3 linked regions of the Homo sapiens genome follow. The protein of the gene in region 3 purifies or fractionates together with the protein of the main gene of each other region. This does not show direct contact. Each region holds a gene or a part of one and is shown on either strand. Other genes may lie near its edges.

Region 1 (7,036 bases), on a different chromosome or scaffold from region 3:
GTAACACAAGCAAAACTTACAGGTCGTTCAACAAGGTCATCTCGGCGGGTGATTTCTACCGGAAAAGCATTTCCTCGGTATCTGACATTGTACCAATGAGCCTGCAAAACACACAGTGTGCTAACTAGAGTTCTACATCCAGGAAAGTCTATTCTTCTGTGGATTCACCCATAATGATCATCTCCTGGCTGTTAGGAAATTCATGTGAGCAGCGACCCAACCCTGCCCCACTCACCACGTGGATCTTCAGGTCAATGGAGAGGCGGATGTGGTAGGGAACATCGTACTCGCGCATGTCCACAATGTTGTCCAACTGGTCAGCTATCTTCTTAGAGGTTTCCTCTTCATCAGTAATGACACCGCCCCTCTGCAGAACACTAGGAATTAACAAGAGAGCAACTAACTCAGCTGCCAGGGTCTGGAGGAGGTGAGACCAGAGTTCCAACTCAGTAGGAAGAGGTGAGACCAGAGTTCAAACCGAGGAAACACAAAAGGTAAATTGATGTGGTTTCAACGACCAAGGCAGTCCTTCCTTTAAGAATGGCTTGGACTGGGCCAGGCGTGGCAGCTCACGCCTGTAATCCCAGCACTTTGGGAGGCCAAGGAAGGCGGATCACCCGAGGTCAGGAGTTCGAGACGAGCCTGGCCAACACGACGAAACCTCATCTCTACTAAAAATACAAAAATTAGCCAGGCGTGGTGGCGCATGTCTGTAACCCCAGATACCTGGGAGGCTGAGGCAGGAGAATCACTTGAACCCAGGAGGCGGAGGTTGCAGTGAACCCAGATTGCGCCACTGCACTCCAGCCTGGGCAACAGAGCGAGACTCCATCTCAAAAAAATAAAGAATAGCTTGGATGATAACTCTACAGACAGGAGAAAATTCAGTGTAAGATGTATTCATTTTATATGATGTGAGTTACACCCCAACTAGAAAAAAAAAAAGAGGGCCAAGCATGGTGGCTTATGCCTCTAATCCCAGCACTCTGGGAGGCAGGAGGATCGCTTCGGCCCAGGAGTTCAAGACAGGCCTGGGCAACATAGGGAGACTCATCTCTACAAAAGTAATAATAATAATAATAATAATTAGCCAGGCATGGGGTACACACCTGTGATCCCAGTTACTCAGGAGGCTGAGGTGAAAGGATCGCTTGAGCCCAGGAGTTCGAGGCCACAGTGAGCTATGATTGCACCACTGCACTCCAGCCTGGGCAACAGAGCAAGACCCTGTCTCAAAACAAATAAGTAAATAGAAGAAAAAAGAAAGAAAACATTAAGTGCTGCCAGTCAGGAGAGCCAGGCATGACCATCCCACCATGGTCCTGATACTCAGGAGGCTGCCTCATGCAGGCTGAAGAGCAGGCCTGGGCTTCACACAGCCTGTGCATGGGTCTCTGCCATGTCTAAAGAAGTGGCCCACCATTGCGGCCACTATTGGCCTATAAGCTCAAATACTGAACGGGCTATTCAGGGGGAAAAAGACAGACGAGTCTCAGATATGGCTCAAGTCTCTGAGGACTCAGTCTCTGATCACACCTTCCAATATTTCAAAAAGCAACTTGTGGCATTGCCAGGGAAGGCGGACTCCGGGTAGGGACTGTAGAAATGTTCAGCATCCCAAACTGATCCTCTTTTGTCAGAGGGTAAGGTAGGTTCTTCCGAAGTCATCTAAACTTCATTACTCAAGATTTTCTCTTCCTAACTGGTTACTTTGCATCCTATTATTGTTGATGCTCAAATACTTGAAGAACAGTGTTTAGTGTTCTAGGCTTAAATTTCTGTGGACGATACCCAAGGTTCTCTGGAGATGTGCTGTGTAAATCTCAGCACTTAATGAAATTCATAGATGGATTGTGTTAGGGCAGTAGGATGAGGGATCTTTTCCCCTCTAAGGTGACTTTACTATTACAACCACTCAATTTTAGAGCCATAAACCCACCCCTCCATTGGAAAAGAGAGCTAACACATAAAATATAACCTGGGAAGCCACTGTTTATTTAACACAGAACATACAGAAATCTCTACCTAATTGCTCAAGTTTTCCGTATCAAACAGAGCCAGCCATTAAGGTAACTTTGTTGCTACGTGTTCCTGTCTCCTATCCATCTTGTCGTTCTGAACCGCTGATGCTTTGCTCACAAGACCAAAGTTTACCTGGAAAGCAGAGCTGTGTACGCGTCGCTGGCGTGATCCTGCTCCCTGTTCTTCTTCACGGCAGGGGAGATCTCCTTCCTCACTTTGACAAGATCCTCCACAGTGTGGAAGGACAGCCTGATGTAATTTCGCTTCAAACCCACCAAGTGATTTGGCTATAATGCGAAGAGATCACGCTCATTGGTTCAAGAGAAATAGGACTTTATGGGTGAGAGGGTAAACACTCAAAGGTAAACACACAAGTCAAAGAGTTGGCGACTTCAAGGCACCTTGTCCAACTCTGCACGTGGCACCAACTAACACCACTAGAGCTCTTTGGAAGGAATTTTATAGACGGTCACCACACCGCCCCATCACCCAACAGATGACCTGAATTTCTACCTCTTCCGATCCCACCTGCCAGGAACAATGTAGACTCTGGCCTCATTTACCCCTGGAAAGTCTGGGTGATACTCACCAAGTCCAGATCCTCTTTGGGGACAGTCTCCACTTTTGCAATTTTGCCCTGAAACTTCTTGGAGAGAAAAGATGAAACTTCTCGCTCACAACCCTAATCAGGATCAGAATGAAAAGGCTTTCCATTGGTAAAATACATTTCCTTCCTTGCCTATTTCCCAGTTGCAAAGCCCACCACAGAATGACACACAGGTCGTCTGACCTGAGTCTATGAAACACACTCACCTTTCTGGTCGCAATGTAGAAATACGGTTTATAGGGCAAAGCCACCTGTTAAGAGTCACCAACCCATCCAGGGGTGATGAGAAAGAAGAAAGCGAGAGAAAAGTGAAAACACATTGCTTGCTCCTATATCCCATGAACAGCCTAGGGCCAGGGTAGCCTTGACCTTGGTAGCATACAGGAAGTCAGAATGCGCACTTTTCACAGGGGCAAGAATCTGAAAGACACGCTACTTCTCACCATTCAGAGTCTTCCTGAACTGACCTCTCTCAGGACATCTTACGTGATGACTGATGGGGCCTCCAGGGGCCCGAGTTCTGCTGGGCTATGGGCTGCTGTGCACTGGAAGCCTCCCATGCCCTCCCTGACAGTCACAGAGCTACATGAACACCCATAAAAGTGGGTTTTAGCTTGTCGCAGTCAGGGGCTTACCTTAAATCTGCTTCCGTCATCTTGAATAAAGTAGTAATCCACTGCACTGCCTAAGCGCTTATCTTCATCTAAAATCTCGGTCTACAAGAGAATCAGTCAACACAGACACAAGACCATCCTCTACACAGTTAGAGAAACTTTCCTCCTACCTTTCGGGAAACTCAGCACTTTAGAAACAAACCCTCTCATCTAGGTCTTTACTCCACCCCTACATTAACACTACCAGCCTTATTCACAAGAACCACACTGTAACGGCCTCCAAATGGGGATCTCTCTCAATTTCTCCCTCATAATCCTTGAAAGCTTTATTCTGATGGCTAAAAGAGATGCCCATCACCTCCGGCTTCTCACAGTGGCCTCTCTGTGGCCCTCAATGACGTTAAAGAGGAAAGGAGAGCTGGGAACCTTCACATCTCCCACCTGATTCACTCAAAGTTCCCTCATGTGTCCCCCACTCTTTAGATAAGGACCACGCTATGACCAGAAGGGTTGCAGCCATATTCCTGGGTGGGAGAAGGACCTAGTGCTTACAGGATGCATGTTAATGAGCCAGCCTGTCTTCTCACCAGGCTCCTTCAGCCGCTCAAAACCAAACCGCAAATCCATCTTATCCGTCCACTGACTCCGTTCCAGGCGCTTGAGTGCCGAAACTGAGGAAGTGGCGCCATCATCCCTGAGTGAAAGAAGGGAACCCCGTGCTTAATTTGTAATGCCACCTGCTGCTGCTTCTTTTTTTCTTTTTTTTCTTTTTTTTTGAGACGGAGTCTTGCTCTGTCGCCTAGGCTGGAGTGCAGTGGTGTGATCTCGGCTCACTGCAAGCTCCGCCTCCCGGGTTCACGCCATTCTCCTGCCTCAGCCTCCCGAGTAGCTGGGACCACAGGCGACAGCCACCACGCCTGGCTAATTTTTTGTATTTTTAGTAGAGACGGGGTTTCACCGTGTTAGCCAGGATGGTCTCGATCTCCTGACCTTGTGATCCGACTGCCACCTACTTCTGCAACCCTCATCCCACCTAGTGTTAAGTGTTTCGGATATGACAGGGTATATATATTCCTGAAAAACCCCGAGCTTGGAAAAAGGCTCATTAAGATAAAAGGACTCATTGGAAAAACACAATTAGGGCAGGCCCTTCAAAACCTGTTCAACTTTATAACCAGAATACTAACAAAAAGAGTCATGATGGCTAGACACTGTTGCCTCTTGGGACACTAAAAATGCATAAAACTAGCCAGACGCGGTGGCTCATGAGAGTGCATGTAACACTGACATGATTTGAATAAAACAGACGGATTGTCAGGCCAGGCACAGTGGCTCACGCCTGTAATCCCAAAACTTTGGGAGGCCAAGGCGGGTGGATCACCTGAGGTCAGGAGTTTGAGACCAGCCTGGCCAGCATGGTGAAACCCTGTCTCTACTAAAAATACAAAAAATTAAATCCCAGCACCGTGGGAGGCCGAGGCGGGCGGATCACGAGGTGAGGAGATCTAGACCATCCTGCTAATACAGTGAAACCCCGTCTTTACTAAAAATACAAAAACTTAGCCAGGCGTGGTGGTGGGTGCCTATAGTCCCAGCTACTCAGGAGGCTGAGGCAGGAGAATGGCGTGAACCCAGGAGGTGGAGCTTGCAGTGAGCCGAGAACGCGCCACCACACTCCAGCCTGGGCAGCAGAGCGAGACTCCGGCAAAAAAAAAAAAATAAATAAAAATAAATAAATAAATAAATAAATTAGCTGGGTGTGGTGGGGTGGGCCTATAATCCCAGCTACTCAGGAGGCTGAGGCAGGAGAATCACTTGAACCCTAGAGGTGGAGGTTGCAGTGAGCCAAGATTGCGCCACTGCACTCCAGCCTGGGTGACAAGAGTGAAACTTCGTCTCAAAAAAATAAATAAAATAAAATAAGATAAAATAAATTAGATGGGTCGTCTCAATGTCAATTTCTTAGTTGTGACAATTGTACTCTACTTACACAAGATGTTATGGTGAAGTGATACGGGAATCTCTGTATCATTTCTGACAAATGCATGAGAATCAATCTACAATTACCTCAAAAAAAGGTTGAGGGCCAGGCGCAGTGGCTCACAACTGTAATCCCAGCACTTTGGGAGGCCAAGGAGGGTGGATGACTTGAGGCCAGGAGTTTGAGACCATCCTGGCTAACATGGTGAAACCCCGTCTCTACTAAAAATACGAAAAATTAGCCGGGCGTGGTGGCGGGCGCCTGTAGTCCCAGCTACTCGGGAGGCTGAGGCAGGAGAATGGCGTGAATCCAGGAGGCAGAGCTTGCAGTGAGCTGGGATCATGCCACTGCACTCCAGCCTGGGCGACAGAGCGAGACTCCGTCTAAAAAAAAAATAAAATAAAAAAAGAACAAGATAAAAAAAGAAAGGAAGACCCTTCCTTTGTCTGAAGGTATTCCTTGGATCACCTTCAACTCAAGAGCAGAATGACCATATTCCAAGACTAGGATCCTTACTTCTCATGAAAGATTATAACCACTTGTGGTAGGCAGGCAGGATGACACCCCCCATGAAAGACCCACATCCTAATCCCCCAAACCTGTGAATGTTATCTTACAAGACAAAAGGGTCTTTGCAGATCTGACTAAATTAAGGGCCTTGAGATTCTGCTTAGCTGGGTGGGCGCAGTGTAATCACAAGAATCCTTGTAGAGTGAGGCAGGAGAGCTAGAGTCAGGAAGGAGAAAGGGATGGGAGAGAGAGGGTAGGGGGGAGAGGAGATGCAACCCTTGGTTCTGAAGATGAAGAAGCAGCAAGGAAACAGATTCTCCCCCGGGAACCATCACAATAAATATAACCAACCAGACACTTTCATATTACGACTTCTGACTTCTAAAACCGTAAGAGAATAAATTTATATAGTCACTAAGTGATCATGTGTTACTGCAGCAATAGGAAACTGATACACCACCATACTGTATAATAAAGGTTTAATCTTTTAAATAGTTGAATGCACCCGTAATCAAAAACACAGAAAAACTATATTCCAAATCTTGCTAGAGAACAGCCTCAGTTCTGAGTCCCAGATCTTTATCAAAATCAAGAGTGAATGAAGTGCTATTTACGAGGCATCACCTCTTAACAGGGGCGCACGGCCCTCTATGCCAGTCCTCCAAATATCCTTGCCTCAAGTAAGTTGGATTAAGTAGACTAGAAAACTGCTCACTGGGACCATATTTCCTCCCAAAACTGCTTTCTCTGAGCTGTGTATCTCACTTTTAATCCAGGGACAGTAAGAAATCTGAAAAATGGGGATAAGTGTCACACAGGGAGCTACCATCGACTGGTTACTATATCACACCGTCCCAGTACTCCACACAGGCTCTCATTCACAGAGAGCTACCATTGACTGGTTACTATATCACACCGTCCCAGTACTCCACACAGGCTCTCATTCACAGAGAGCTACCATTGACTGGTTACTGTATCACACCGTCCCAGTACTCCACACAGGCTCTCATTCACAGAGAGCTACCACTGACTGGTTACTGTATCACACCGTCCCAGTACTCCACACAGGCTCTCATTCACAGAGAGCTACCATTGACTGGTTACTGTATCACACCGTCCCAGTACTCCACACAGGCTCTCATTCACAGAGAGCTACCATTGACTGGTTACTGTATCACACCGTCCCAGTACTCCACACAGGCTCTCATTCACAGAGCTACCATTGACTGGTTACTATATCACACCGTCCCAGTACTCCACACAGGCTCTCATTCACAGAGAGCTACCATTGACTGGTTACTG
Region 2 (7,036 bases), on a different chromosome or scaffold from region 3:
GTTCTCGTGATAGTGAGGAAGTCTCACGAGATCTGACGGCTTTATAAAGGGCAGTTCCCCTGCACACGCTCTCTTGCCTGGCGCCATGTAAGATGTGCCTTTGCTCCTCTTTCGCCTTCTGCCATGACTGTGAGGCCTCCCCAGCCGTGTGGAACTGTGAGTCCAGGAAACCTCTCTTTATAAATGATCCTTTTTTTTTTTTTTTTTTTTTTGAGACAGAGTCTCACTCTGTTTCCCAGGCTGGAGTGCAATGGCATGATTTCAGCTCACTGCAACCTCTGCATCCTGGGTTCAAGCAATTCTTCTGCCTCAGCCTCCCAAGTAGCTGGGACCACAGGCATGCGCCACCACGCCCGGCAAGTCTTGGGTTATTTCTTCATAGCAGTATGAGTATGAAAATAAACTAATACAGATCCAATATGTAGGACAGACACTCATGCCTGAAATGCCTGTGACCATGACAACATTCATTCACATTGATCAGGGCTCACAGGCACTTCACAAGGAGCAGCTATGGCACCTGCTGTGTCCTTTGGCTAACCCCTGGTGTGAATGAGGCACAGGGCTTGGGGAGGTGAGGCTGCTTGAGCAGGGTCACCAGCTAGTAGCCGGCAGTGCTGAGACATGAACCTGGAGATGCTGGACTCCAAAGCCAGCTCCACTGCCTGCTGCCCTCCTGCCCACACCTGGAGCCCCAAGATGGTGGAAGCCAAGAGCCCTGCATGGAAGGACTGTGCTGTCAGGGGCAGGGGGGAGAGGGGTGGAGGCTGAGGCGCAGCCGCCATGGCTCACCTTGAGGCTCTGGTGATGCTCCTCCAGCTCCTCATCACTGAAGCCAGTTCCAAGCTGCAGGGAGGAAGCGGGAGGTCAGAGGCTCAGCCAGCCACAGGCCCAGCACTTGCTCCTGCCATCTAAAGCTGTGTACACTCATGGCCCCCACCCCACTCTGGTCTACGCAGTATCCACAGAAAACCAGGGAAGTAGGGAGCTGGGGGTGCGGAGCATCCATCCAGAGACTCCCGGGTGGGAATGTTCTCCCAGCAGGCCTGCCGTGAACCACTCCCTGTCTTCTGCTTTATGGAGAAACTCTTGCTGCTTCCACTGTCTCCCTGGCCCCAGGAAGTCACTCCCTTATGCTCACCCACATCCTCACTGCCCAGTAACTGGCTGTCCTCACTTCCAGTCTTTTTTTTTTTTTTTTTTTTTTTTTTTGAGACAGGGTGTAGCTCTGTTATCCAGGCTGGAGTGCAGTGGTGCAATCTTGGCTCACTGCAACCTCCACCTCCTGGGCTCAAGCAATCCTCCTGCCTCAGCCTCCCAAGTAGCTGGGACCACAGGCATGCACCACCACGCCTGGCTAATTTTTTAAAAAAGTTTTTGTAGAGGTGGGGTCTCACTATGTTGCCCAGGCTGGTCCCGAACTCCTGGGCTCAAGTGATCCTCCCACCTCAGCCTCCCAAAGTGCTGGGATTACAGGCGTGAGTGGCCATGCCCAGCCCATCTCCAATGTTAACACTGCCAAGAGCTTCTTTCACCTACCAAAATAGGAAAGGCTAAAAATTAGCAGTAATGCTGGATGCTGGCAGATACGCAGCAAGTGGGCAATAATCACCAATATAAACGTCACCTGGAAAGCCCCTTTTGCATTGAGAGTCTTAAGGATTCTTTTTGCCTTTTGTCCTGACAATAGCTCATTTAAAAATCTATTCTAAATAATGCAAAATGGTGACAATGTAGATTGGTGGCCAAAACATTTGTGATTTATAAAAGTCACTTCTGTCACTGATCGTTTAGGTTAACGGACACTAAGTAATCACATTACCCATCAGAACAAAGCCGGCAACAACTTCCCCACACAGCCACGGGGAGCTGGTTCAGGACACAGCACTATGTGCTATGGGGCACAGCACTTGAAAACTCTTGTGCGGGCATTCAGGTCCTGTTGCCATATTGCTTAAGGGCATATACAACACTGAAAACAAAGTACTTCCAGGGTAAAAAGGCAGAAAAGAAAATTACTCATAGAGAAGGATCACAACTTTGCAAAAATGTAAATAAAACATTCCCTCAAATGTCACTACTGCGTGTCTCTGGGTGGTACGATTCTAGGTGATATTTTGTTCTGTTTCTGTGGCAAAAGACCCAAATTTGTTGGAGAGGGGAATATAGGAAATACGTAAGAAAATCTAGTCCAAAATGTGCACAGCTTTAAGAAAAACTTTAACTTGAAAAAAAGTAAATCACTTTACATTTCCCAGAATTCCTTGCAGCTAGGGGTGAGCCATGGAGCAAAGTGATGAGCAACAGAACTTGAGCAGAAGGTGTTCACTGGCTGAGGCTGACTCAGGGTCCAACCCCCTTTGCTCTTCCCTGGTGCGTGGAGCAGGCATGGCCATGAGGGCTGGAACTCCTGCAGCCACATTGTGATGATGAGGCCAGAGGCACATGGCAGAAAAAAAAAATGTGGGGACAAAAAAAAATGTGGGGAGAGGAGGAACCTGAATCCCTAATGGCATCAGACTGCCCCCTCCACACTTCTCATTTCATAACAAAAAAATTCTTTTCTTATGTGAGCCACCACTATTTGTAGCTAATCTCAATCTCTCACTGACACACATTCCTGACATCTTTCTATCCCAGCCTGTTTTTCTATATGAAGCAAGAGTTGCTCATAGAACCAGAAAAAGTAAATAAAAACTGGGGAGAACGGATCCTTCACAGGGGGATGTGAGCACCCCTCGGTCTGGGTTGTGCAATAGGAAATACCCCCGGGAGTCTAATCTCCTTCCCTCCTGCTTCTGCCATCAGCCCCAGTTCCCCAGGACCTTGCATATGGCCTGCAGCTCCTCACTGTCCTCGTCGTAGGAGGCCAGCAGGAAGCCCCCGTACCGGCCGGCCCGCTTCCCCCGGCCCAGGTAGGCGCCGATCACCACCAGGTCCAGGGTGTCACCCACGCCATCAAGGTAGTCCTTCTTCAGCTGGGAGAAGGGGAGGCAAGAGATGAGAAGGGGGAGCGCCCAAGGCGGGGCCCTCACTGCTGGGGAGGGGCTCCTCAGTGGACTGAGGAGGGACTAGAAGTAAGTCTGAAGGGAACTTCCAGAAGGAACCCCAAGGATGGCCCCTGGGAAGAGACTGGACATGGGAAGGGTTTCTAGGTTTAAATAAGAACAAATGGGGCCGGGCACGGTGGCTCATGCCTGTAATCCCAGCATTTTGGGAGGCCGAGGCGGGTGGATCACCTGAGGTCGGGAGTTCGAGACCAGTCTGACCAACATGGAGAAACCCCGTCTCTATTAAAAATACAAAATTAGCCGGGCGTGGTGGCGTGTGCCTGTAATCCCAGCTACTTGGGAGGCTGAGGCAGGGGAATCGCTTGAACCCGGGAGGCGGAGGTTGCAGTGAGCCAAGATCGTGCCATTGCACTCCAGCCTGGGCAATGAGAGTGAAACTCCGTCTTAAAATAAATAAATAAATAAATAAGAACAAATGGGAAACGCAGGCGGGATCGATGGGACCTCAGGAGTCAGCCTTGCCGCCGTCTTTCCCTCAGGACAGAGACGTGGCCAACTCACTCTGGCCACTCCTCCAAAGGGAGAGCATTTTCCCATTCGTTCAGAAACGTTCACTAAGTGCTAACCATGTGCCAGGCAGAAGCTCAGCCCTGGGGGCACAACAGTGCTATTTCCTGAGACAGGAAAGGTCTGTGCTGGAGGGAAACCAGCCACAGACAGACATAAGTACACAGGAAGAGCTAGTCAGCAGGCCTGGCCGGCTCAGTGCCACAATGCCTCCCGCTCCAGTCCCCTTGTCCACCCCTCACTGCCCCTCTCCACTCAAACATCCATCAACTCTTACTGATGACAGGCTCCTGCTCGCTGGCCCTCAACACACCCGTCCTCCACTCGAGGGGAAACCCCAGGAGCTTCGCACAATGACAACCTGTGACTCCCGGCACGGAACCCCCACTGACTTCCTGAAACCTTCAAGAGGAAGATCCAGTTTTATCTCACAGTGGCCCCAGGTGCTGCCTCATCTGGGGCCTGCTCCCCACTCTGAGCTCACCTCCCGCCTCGCCTGCCCTTGCTCCCTGCACACGCAGAGGCTGCTCCTCCCTCAGGGTCTCTGCACCGGGGGTTTTCCTCCCTAGTGCTCTGTCCCTCACTTTGGGAAAGACTCTTCCTGATCATCCGGGGCACTCCCAGCCCCGCCTTGCTGGCCCGGAGCTGACTTGCTTTTCTTCATGGCGCCCACTCCTGCCTGACTTTCTCTTATTCATGTCCTGGCTTAATTCCTGCCCAAGAGCCTGGCCCGACACGGGCGGCAGGCTCAGGAGAGAGACACCTCATCACGCTGCACCTCGTGGGATGTGCGGTGCTTGGGCTGGGGCTGTTCTCCATCAGAACTCGTGAGCAAGGGCTCGCAGCAGGGAGAAGGTCTGAACTCAGTTGCAGCAGGGGGCTGGGGTGGGATTGTGAAAAGGGGCCCTGAGCTCAGACAGGGTACACAGTGGAGGCTCGAAATCCACTGCCTAGCTGGGACAGACCTCCAGACCCGGGGTGGAGAAGGCCCAGTTGGGGGTCGAGAATCACCTTGAGCCAGTTGTGCGATCTCTTGGCGATCTCGTAGGTGGCATCAACATCCAGGGTCTTCACCATCAGCCCCTCGCAGGAGTCTGAGGGAGACACAGAAGCGTGGTCCTTGGGAAGCCCTGGCTCACAAGCGCCGGAGCAGGCAGGATTCTGGTCAAACGGTCCAGGACTGGGGACAGGCTGGGAGGCCGGGGTCAGCGCAAGCTGCAGACCTCAGGAGAGAAAAGTGAGCACCCTCACCTTTCACTGACTGCTCCAGGAACTCGGCGATCTGCTCGATGTCCTTGGTGTCCAGGGAGGTGGCGAAGACAAACTCGCCCTCTGTCTCCACAAAGTTCTCCCGGAGCAGCTGCCGGCGCCGGGAAAGGGGCTCACGTACCAGGGACTGCAGGGCCGGCAGGGAGAAGAGAGATGAGACATCTTTGTGAGAATAAAGACAATAAGCCCTAAATGTGAGGCGAACAGGACATGTGCGGGTCACAACTAGTGACAGGGTTCGTGGAAAGCCTTGAGAGGGAAGAACCCTGATGTCAGAAGGATTCTGAGAGCTTAAAGCATGGGGCTAGTCACTGGCAAGAGGGCCCGACACCATTTAGAGTCGGTGACTTCAGGAGCATCAGACGGGGGGCTGCGGCCTTGCTGGAGCTTGAATTAACACTTTACGGGCATCTCATCAGTTTTGTTTTTTGTTTTTGTTTTTTTGAGACGGAATCTCGCTCTGTCGCCCAGGCTGGAGTGCGGTGGTGCGATCTTGGCTGACTGCAGCCTCCGCCTCCTGAATTCAAGCGACTGTCTTGCGTCGGCCTCCCGAGTAGCTGGGACTACAGGTGCACATCACAAGAGATCCACCCACCTCAGCCTCCCAAAGTGTTGGGATTACAGGCGTGAGCCACTGCATCCAGCCTCATCCCCAAGATAATTAAAAAAAAAAAAAAAAGTCCTCCTTTCCTTAGAATTCCAAAAGTTTTCACTGAGTTTTTCCAGCACATTTACAGTTTTGTGTTTTGCTTTGAAATCAGTTCCAGCTGGACCTTGCAAGAGTGTGTGTCAGAGAGGAAGGAGGTGATCTGAGTGTTTTTAAACAAAGGACAAAGCAGTTGTCTCCACATGTCAACACTGACTAATCCGTCTTGTGGCTTTGAATTGCTTTTCTCTTTTGTTCGATCGGTCCCCACCCACGCGCAGTGTTTCTGGTCTGCCCTTTGCTCAGGGCTTCTCTGTGATGATGTTAAACTACCTTCACCACTTGCCCTCCAGGGGGACATTCACGTGTTTTCCATGGACAGCTTTTTTCTGTTGTAAAATTGTGCTCATGAACATTTTGTATGAAAAGATGAGAGAGAGGAGCCACAAGGGTTAAGCAGGTACAATTTATCTGGGGTCAGACCATTTCAGGTTTACATCCCAGCCACACGCTTCCTAGCTGGTGACTTCAGGCAAGCGTTTCCCTCTGTGTACCTCAGAGCTCCCATCTGTAAAATGCAGCAATACCTACTCAGGGCACGTCTGGGAAGATCAGCTGAGCCCGTGCTACCCAGTGTAGCCGCCACCAGCCATGTGTAGCAATTGAGCCCTTGAAATGTAGCAAGTTCAATCGGAGATGTGCCAAGGGCAAAACAGTCACTGGCTTTAGAAGACTTAATCCAAGAAAAGAGTGTAAAATTCCATGTTAATAATTTCTTATATTCATCACACATTGAAAGGATAATATCTTAGACATTGGATTAAAGAAAATATGATTTTATCTGTTTCTTCTTACCTTTTAATATGGCTACTAGAAGCTCTAAAATTAGAAATGTAGGCTACTGCAGTGGCTCATGCCTGTAATCTCAGCGCTTTGGAAAGCGGAGGTGGGTGGATCACCTGAGGTCAGGAGTTCAACATCAGCCTGGCCAACATGGTGAAACCCCGACTCTACTAAAAATGCACAAATTAGCTGGGTGTGGTGGTGGGTGCCTGTAATCCCAGCTACTTGGGAGGCTGACGCAGGAGAATCACTTGAACGCCAGAGGCGGAGGCTGCAGTGAGCCAAGATCACACCACTGCACTCCAGCCTGGGCGACAGAGACTGTGTCTCAAAAAAAAAAAAAAAATCATGGGGATGAGGACACATTAAACAGAAAAAAAATGATATACTTGACTACATAAAAATAGTTCATCCATGTTCAACTACTACTAATAAAAAAATTTGTAAAAGTAATAGCTCAAACAAGTCCTATACAACAAAATAGGCCATCAATAAATTTTAAAGAAGGAATATTTGAAGGAATGAGAAGAAATATTTGAAATGCTCATGGGAGACAAAGGAACCAGCTGAGCAGGGATGATCAAATCCTGCAGAAAAACCCACAAAGTATCCAGTGTTTGGAAAGCACCTGATACTTGACTTTCCTCTCCCCAGACATCACGGGAAACAAAAATCAGACTCTGACTGTCTTCCTACAGTA
Region 3 (7,036 bases):
CATTCACATGGCCATGAAGTCAGACCCTACAAGTGAGAACCAATGAGCTTTCAGAAGGGGCACAGGACATTAGGACCAGCCTTTGTATGGTGCTTTCTACTGACCAAGTTAATTTTCATACCTAGAACCTCATATACACCTCACAACTCTGGGAGAAGGTAGTTTTCTCATCCCCATATTACAGATGAAGACTCTAAGGCGCAGAGAGATTAAGTGACTTGTCCAAGGTCATAGAATTGGAAAGTAGGAATGATGGATCCCGAACCTGCATTCCTTAATTCCAAGCGCTGTGCATTGGCCCCACAGACAAGGGGCTCCTCCCAATTCTTACACAGCCATTACCTGGAGGATTTATACTACATCCTGAGGTATGTGCCTAGATTCTCCAAAATATCCCCAAATAAATGTCCTGCTATTCTGCTTCCTCATCCTCAAATAATTAAAGGAAAATCCAAACCAAAGGTAAGATCCTAACAGTGCCTTACATTTGCCCAGGCAAAGCAGCAACTCCACCACATGAGTGAGAATCTACAAGAAGCAACTAACACAGTGCCTAGGAAGCAACATCCCCGCCCCCACCTCCGCCCCACCTACCATCATCCACAATCCAGTCATCATCCTGGCGTGCCTGAACCAGCTTCGAATACTGTTCTTCATCAACTTCTTCATAAACACCTGTGAAGTCCTCGACCTACCATTATACAAGTTTCAGGAAAAAAGCTTCAAATAGAGGAGTCAAAGTGTTAAATAATTCTGATGAAAAAATTGTCAAATTGAAACTGGAATGGCAGACTGAAGGAGTAGCTGCAACCAAATCATGAGTTCTGACATTCAACACCACTACAGGGTTTTCCTTAAATAGACATCAATTAACTTAGTATTCCTTTTAGGTGGGTGTTAACATAAGATATTAAATGATTCCATTAGCATAATACACTTGTCATACCATCAATTACTCATCTATTTCATAAAAAACAAACTGAATTATAGCCAATTCTTCATTAGCTGCTTTGGGGAATTATTCACTTGTAATTTCTAGACTGGTTTCTCCTACACTTAGCAAACCTGTAAGGCATGCCACTTCCCTCTCCACTAGCTGATGTACGCTCTGCAAATAGACGATAATTTTCATGCCTGTTCAATCAACCAAATACAATTCAGAAGGAAAATCTCCCTCATCCATCCCCTTCCAAAAATTAGCAAAACAAACATATTGCATATTCTACAGGCAAACCAGAAATAGTTTTTGAGTGACCCTGTTTGTATTACCACTGAAACTCCACCATCCTCAGGTCTTGAAACCACACAAGGACTTAAACGCTGAGCTATTTGAAAGGCAAGTCCAGAGAGTGGCAGGTCCTCCAATCATATTGGCTGCCTGACTGCAAGAGGGTCAGAACACTATGAGCTACTGGTATGAGTAAAGCAGACAACCTCTGCACAGCTAAAGCAACAAATGAAAGATACACACCACTGCTGCAGCTGCCCATGGGGAAAGGCCAGTGACTTTCCAGATGAGACTCTGGTGGGCTGGTTTGCAAAATCTCATAGATACTTATTAAAAATTAACAAATGCTGGGCACAGTGGCTCACGCCTGTAATCCCAGCACTTTGGGAGGCCCAGGTGGGTGGATCACCTGAGGTCAGGAGTTTGAGGCCAGCCTGGCCAACATAGTGAAACCCCATCTCTACTAAAAATACAAAAATTAGCCAGGCGTGGTGGCATATGCCTGCAGTCCCAGCTACTCAGGAGGCTGAGGCAGGAGAATCACTTGAACCCGGGAGGTGGAGGTTGCAGTGATGCAGTGAGCCGAGATCATGCACTGCACTCCAGCCTGGGTAAGAGACCGAGTCTCCATCTCAAAAAAAAAAAAAGTACCTGATTCTCGGCCAGGTGCAGTGGCTCACGCCTGTAATCCCAGCACTTTGGGAGGCCAAGGTGAGCAGATTACTTGAGGTGAGGAGTTCAAGACCAGCCTGGCCAACGTGGTGAAACCCCATCTCTACTAAAAATACAAAAATTAGCTGGGCATGGTGGGGGGCGCCTGTAATCCCAGCTACTCAGGAGGCTGAAGCAGGAGAATCGCTTGAACCTGGGAGGTGGAGGTTGCAGTGAGCCAAGAACACACCACTGCACTCCAGCCTGGGAGAGAGAGCGAGATTAAAAAAAAAAAAAATTCTCCCATTCTCTCAAGAGTTCTACCTCAGCCGGGTGTGGTGGCTCACGCCTGTAATCCCAGCACTTTGGGAGGCCAAGGCAGGTGGATCACCTGAAGTCAGGAGTTCCAGGCCAGCCTGACCGACATGGTGAAACCCCGTCTCTACTAAAATTATAAAAATTAGCCAGGCGTGGTGGCAGACACCTGTAATCCCAGCTACTTGGGAGGCTGAAGCAGGACAATCGCTTGAACCTGGGAAGCTGAGGTTGCAGTGAGCCAAGATCATGCCATCGCACTCCAGCCTGAGCAACAAGAGCAAAACTCCACCTCAAAAAAAAAAAAAAAAAAGAGTTCTACCTTTCTCAAATGGAGTACGGGAGAAACAACTCCATCTGAAGAGTTAATACCCTAGGAAAAAACTTGGACAGAGCTTTTGGAATCCAGTGGCCAGAGCTGACTGGATTTCTGCCACACCTATAAGGCTTATAATAATTACGGGATTTGAGTTTTCACCTCCTTTTTAGCCTACTCTACAGGAATCACTGGCAAATACTGATTTGGTCTTTAACCATCTAGTAACAGAAACAACCTGCCTTACCAAATTAAGCTTTTAACAAAAGAGATGCAAAATAGTCCAATTAATATTACTATACTGACCAACTTTCTTTTTTGGGGGTGGGAGGGGAACTGGCGTTATTATTTTTGTTGGTTGAAGACAGACTTTGTCTCTTACTTAAGTGATTCACTATATTATCAAGGAGATACCAGAAAACTATTTTTAAAAATCATTTTGAGTAAAAAGTCATTTCGACTCAATCTTTAAAAACAACATTACTACTGCTCAGCATGAACTCTTAGAGCCATACAATTAACATCACAGTGTTAAAGGGAAATCAGCCACATTGTGCCAACATCTGAAATGCCCCATGGAACTCCTTTATACAAGTACCTACATTAAAAATGTTTTAGTCCTGGGCTCAGTGTGGTGGTTCACGCCTGTAATCCCAGCACTTTGGGAGGCCGAGGCGGGTGGACCATTTGAAGTCAAGAGTTCAAGACCAGCCTGACCAACATGGTGAAAGCCCGTCTCTACTAAAAATACAAAAATTAGCCAGGCGTGGTGGTGGGCGCCTGTAATCCCAGCTACTCGGGAAGCTGAAGCAGGAGAATCGCTTGAACCTGGGAGGTGGAAGCTGCAGTGAACCAAGATCGTGCCATTGCACTCCGGCCTGGGCAACAGAGAGAGACTCCATCTCAAAAACAAAAAAAATGCTTTATTCCTGTTTTACTGAAATCCTTTTAGCAACCTTTTATGATCTGGTTGCCTCACTTAACTTGAACAAATGGTGACAAATGGCAAATATTCTTTTATTTGGTTAACTGGTTAAACAGAAATATTCTGAAGCCAGACTGTCTGGGTTCAAAAAAGAATCTGCCATTGTAACCTCACTAAACTTTCTGTGCCTCGGATATCTCACCTGCAAAATGTTATTAATCATAGTATCTAATTTCATTTGGTTATTGAAAAGATTAAATGAATAAACACATTGGTAAACACACTTAGAATAATATGTTAGTTCAAAAAGTCTATCAGTTATGGTTGTTATTTTCTAGTATTGGTTAATCACTTTCTGGCCATAAGGCAATTAAGATACTCAGGAAGCCCTGAAGGTGATGCTAGACAATATTTATGCAGATGGTGGCCACTCTGTTTTTGACCTGCAGGCCATAAACAGTGGGTAGAGGAAAACCAAAAGAGCATCACATTCAATCTTACAAGCAGAACACGGCAGAAGTTAAGGTCCAAGTCTCCACTGCCACTACCCTTGCAAATGAGATTAGGAAGAACAGTTCTCTCCAAGAAGTAGCACTTAGACTGCTCAATACCTTAAGAGTAAGTAAAAGCATCTCTAAATGACCCCAACAAACCCATGGGACTTACCATAGATACAGCATGCTCAATAAGGAAAAATATAGATATGACTATGTACTTTCATTTTGGAATTTTAAAATCATCTTTAAAATACCTTATAGGAACTTTAAGGGTCGAACATTCTCCATGATCTGTAAATCTACCTCATACCCATGCTTGTCCAATACTAATAAATTCCCATTACAAAAAGTTTAAAATATATGAGTATTTCTAATCTGGGGCAAAGGTGACATAAGACTACCTGCAGGCTATGAATTAGATGATGCACAGGAAGAATAAAGAAGAAAAATGGTTACTTACTTCATATTTATACTTCTCACCAGCTTTAGCCTTTTTCAGTCTTTCTAGGGCTTCTTGGCGCCCCTTCTTTGATTTTTTTTCTCGCCGGGCTCGAGAAGATACAAAACTCCCTGAATCTGACAGAGCTGAAAAAAGAAAAAAAATTTACAACAGATGTTACAAAATTGTCAGCCATCTTCCCTCAAACACAAAGGAAAAGTTTCTAGCCAACAATAACATACAATTTTAGTAATATACAAGTAGATAATGTTTATAATGTAAATAATTCACAAAGCTCATGGCCAAACATACATATCCAAATATACATGACTCGCCAGAAAGTTCCTCCAAGATCCTGTTAAAACAATTAAAGTCACTGTTATTTTTTTCTCTAAAAAGAGGAAAATTCCCAATTCAACTGATATCCTGCGGAGACACTAAACAAGGGAGATCAGCTGTTAGCTAATTTATCACCTTTCCATTAGAAATGACCAGCCAGAAGTAATCCAGTGGGTTATAAAAGCACTATTCATTTTGCAATCTGTCAATCAATATCTAAAAGGCTTCAAGGAGCATCTACTCTTTGCAAAGTACTAGGCACTATGAGACACAAAGACAGGCTGGGCGTGGTGGCTCACACCTGTAATCCCAGCACTTTGGGAGGCTGAGGCAGGCAGATCACCCGAGGTCAGGAGTTCGAGACCAGCCTGGCCAACATGGTGAAACCCCATCTCTACTAAAAATACAAAATTAGCCAGGCATGATGGTGCATGCCTGTAACCCCAGCTACTTGGGAGGCTGAGGCAGGAGAAACACTTGAACCCGGGAGGCGGAGGCTGCAGCGAGCTGAGATCGCACCATTGCACTCCAGCCTGGGCAAAAAGAGAGAAACTCCATCTCAAAAAACAAAAAACAAAAACAAAAAACAACAACAACAAAAAAAGATAAAAAAGACATGGTCTCTGTACTCACAGAACTTACTATCTAACATGGGAGACAAGTAGCAACTGGCTCTAAACAATATTTAGAGATAATAAATGCCTTAAAAGAGATTCAGCCAAAGCACCCGGAAATTCAAAGAAGGAACAGATTGAGGGCTGGAGAAATTTAACAAAGATGGCTCTGAGGGGATTATTGGTATATCACTTATTTCAAGGCCTCAGTTGGTTATGACACAGGACATTACTAAAACAACTACAGGGACTTAAATGGTTTGTCAAAAATTACTGAAATATCAGAGGACTTCAGCGTTTATTCATTCAACTTTTGAATTATTCATGCTCCGATCATCATAAACTGACCGTTCCACACACACACTGAAAAAAATTCAAGCGGATGCAGTGGCTCACGCCTGTAATCCCAGCACTTTGGGAGGCTGAGGTGGGTGGATCACCTGAGGTCAGGAGTTTGAGACCAGCCTGACCAACATGGTGAAACCCCAACTCTACTAAAAATACAAAAATTAGCTGGGTGTGATGGCAGGCACCTGTAATCCCAACTGCTTAGGAGGCTGAGGCAGGAGAATCCCTTAAACCCAGGAGATGGAGGTTGCAGTGAGCCGAGATTGCACCACTGCACTCCAGCCTGGGTGACAGAGCGAGACTCTATCTCAAAAAAAAAAAAAAAAATTCATCCACAGAATTAAAGACTTTCACATACCCACTGATGAAAAACTAAGTCAAGCATAACAGTGCTGCCTGTCAACTACGAGTTTAGGCTCAGCATGATTGCCATCTATGTCTGTGAAATCTAGTATTTTACTGTGTTTGGTGCTAATTAATTTATAAAAAGGAGCAGGCAAAGAAAAGAAGTATGGATAAGAGGCAGCCTAAAACTCCAACCCCACTAGAATGTTCATAACAACATTAAGCTGCTTGACTAAGTGTTTGACTGAAATAGAAGATACAATTTAAAGAACATGTACCAAATGCTGGCAATAAACTGCTGGAAACTATAGCCTAAAGGTAAGGCATAATTAGAGATCTTATTTTTTTCTAGCTTTCTAGAAATGGAATCTCTCTTTATAATATCACACTCTATTGTTTGACTTTCACATTTGACTTTTAAATCCATTTTCAGAAAGACATTAAGTAAAAATTAAGGAATAAAGGTACTTAATGATGACAGCCACAAAAACTTGGATGTCACTCAAATGATTTCAAAAATCGTGAACAGGCCTACATGAAAAGGCTTTGAAGATTACTGAACATGACCCCTGAAAGTGAAAAGCGATTCCCCTCAAGACTCCCTTGATGCCTGACATCTGTAGGTCTTCAAATGCACTTACTCCATAGGCAACAATGTTCCACTACACAGGCAACAATGTTCCACTACACAGGCAACGTCCCACTACACAGGCAACAATGTTCCACTACACAGGGTTTAGGGTACAATCACAAATAAGACAGAGCTGCCTGTCCAAAAGAGGCCCCCAGTCAAGTAAAGCAAAGTACCTGAAATTACCATCACAATATAAACATGGTGCCATAGAAAAGGTAAGAACTCAGTACTGAGGAAATGTACAGAGGAGAGAGCTGTTAATTTTGCCTGGAAAATCAAGGAAGGCTTCACAGGAGAGGTTTCCAATACAGGCCTAGAAAAAGGAGTCAAATTTCACAGAGAACAAAGTAAAAAGTGGCACAAGCAAAAGAAGAGGCATGAGCCA

What was found. Proteins that work in one complex are often made in the same cells at the same time.
Region 1: the proteins of POLA1 (region 3) and POLE fractionate together in Homo sapiens (co-fractionation; 2 studies listed by BioGRID). This does not show direct contact.
Region 2: the proteins of POLA1 (region 3) and LIG1 fractionate together in Homo sapiens (co-fractionation; 2 studies listed by BioGRID). This does not show direct contact.

Annotation. Positions count from the first base shown.
Region 1 is NC_000012.12:132,677,343-132,684,378, forward strand, and holds part of POLE (DNA polymerase epsilon catalytic subunit A), read right to left. Parts: intron 3,938-7,036; coding exon 3,796-3,937; intron 3,346-3,795; coding exon 3,265-3,345; intron 2,881-3,264; coding exon 2,836-2,880; intron 2,705-2,835; coding exon 2,612-2,704; intron 2,310-2,611; coding exon 2,155-2,309; intron 378-2,154; coding exon 236-377; intron 102-235; coding exon 21-101; intron 1-20. UniProt on the Homo sapiens protein: Catalytic component of the DNA polymerase epsilon complex. Participates in chromosomal DNA replication.
Region 2 is NC_000019.10:48,118,345-48,125,380, forward strand, and holds part of LIG1 (DNA ligase 1), read right to left. Parts: intron 4,975-7,036; coding exon 4,830-4,974; intron 4,673-4,829; coding exon 4,590-4,672; intron 2,979-4,589; coding exon 2,826-2,978; exon of another isoform or gene 1,823-2,825; intron 847-1,822; coding exon 793-846; intron 1-792.
Region 3 is NC_000023.11:24,696,906-24,703,941, reverse strand, and holds part of POLA1 (DNA polymerase alpha catalytic subunit), read right to left. Parts: intron 4,518-7,036; coding exon 4,393-4,517; intron 692-4,392; coding exon 595-691; intron 562-594; exon of another isoform or gene 1-561. UniProt on the Homo sapiens protein: Catalytic subunit of the DNA polymerase alpha complex (also known as the alpha DNA polymerase-primase complex) which plays an essential role in the initiation of DNA synthesis.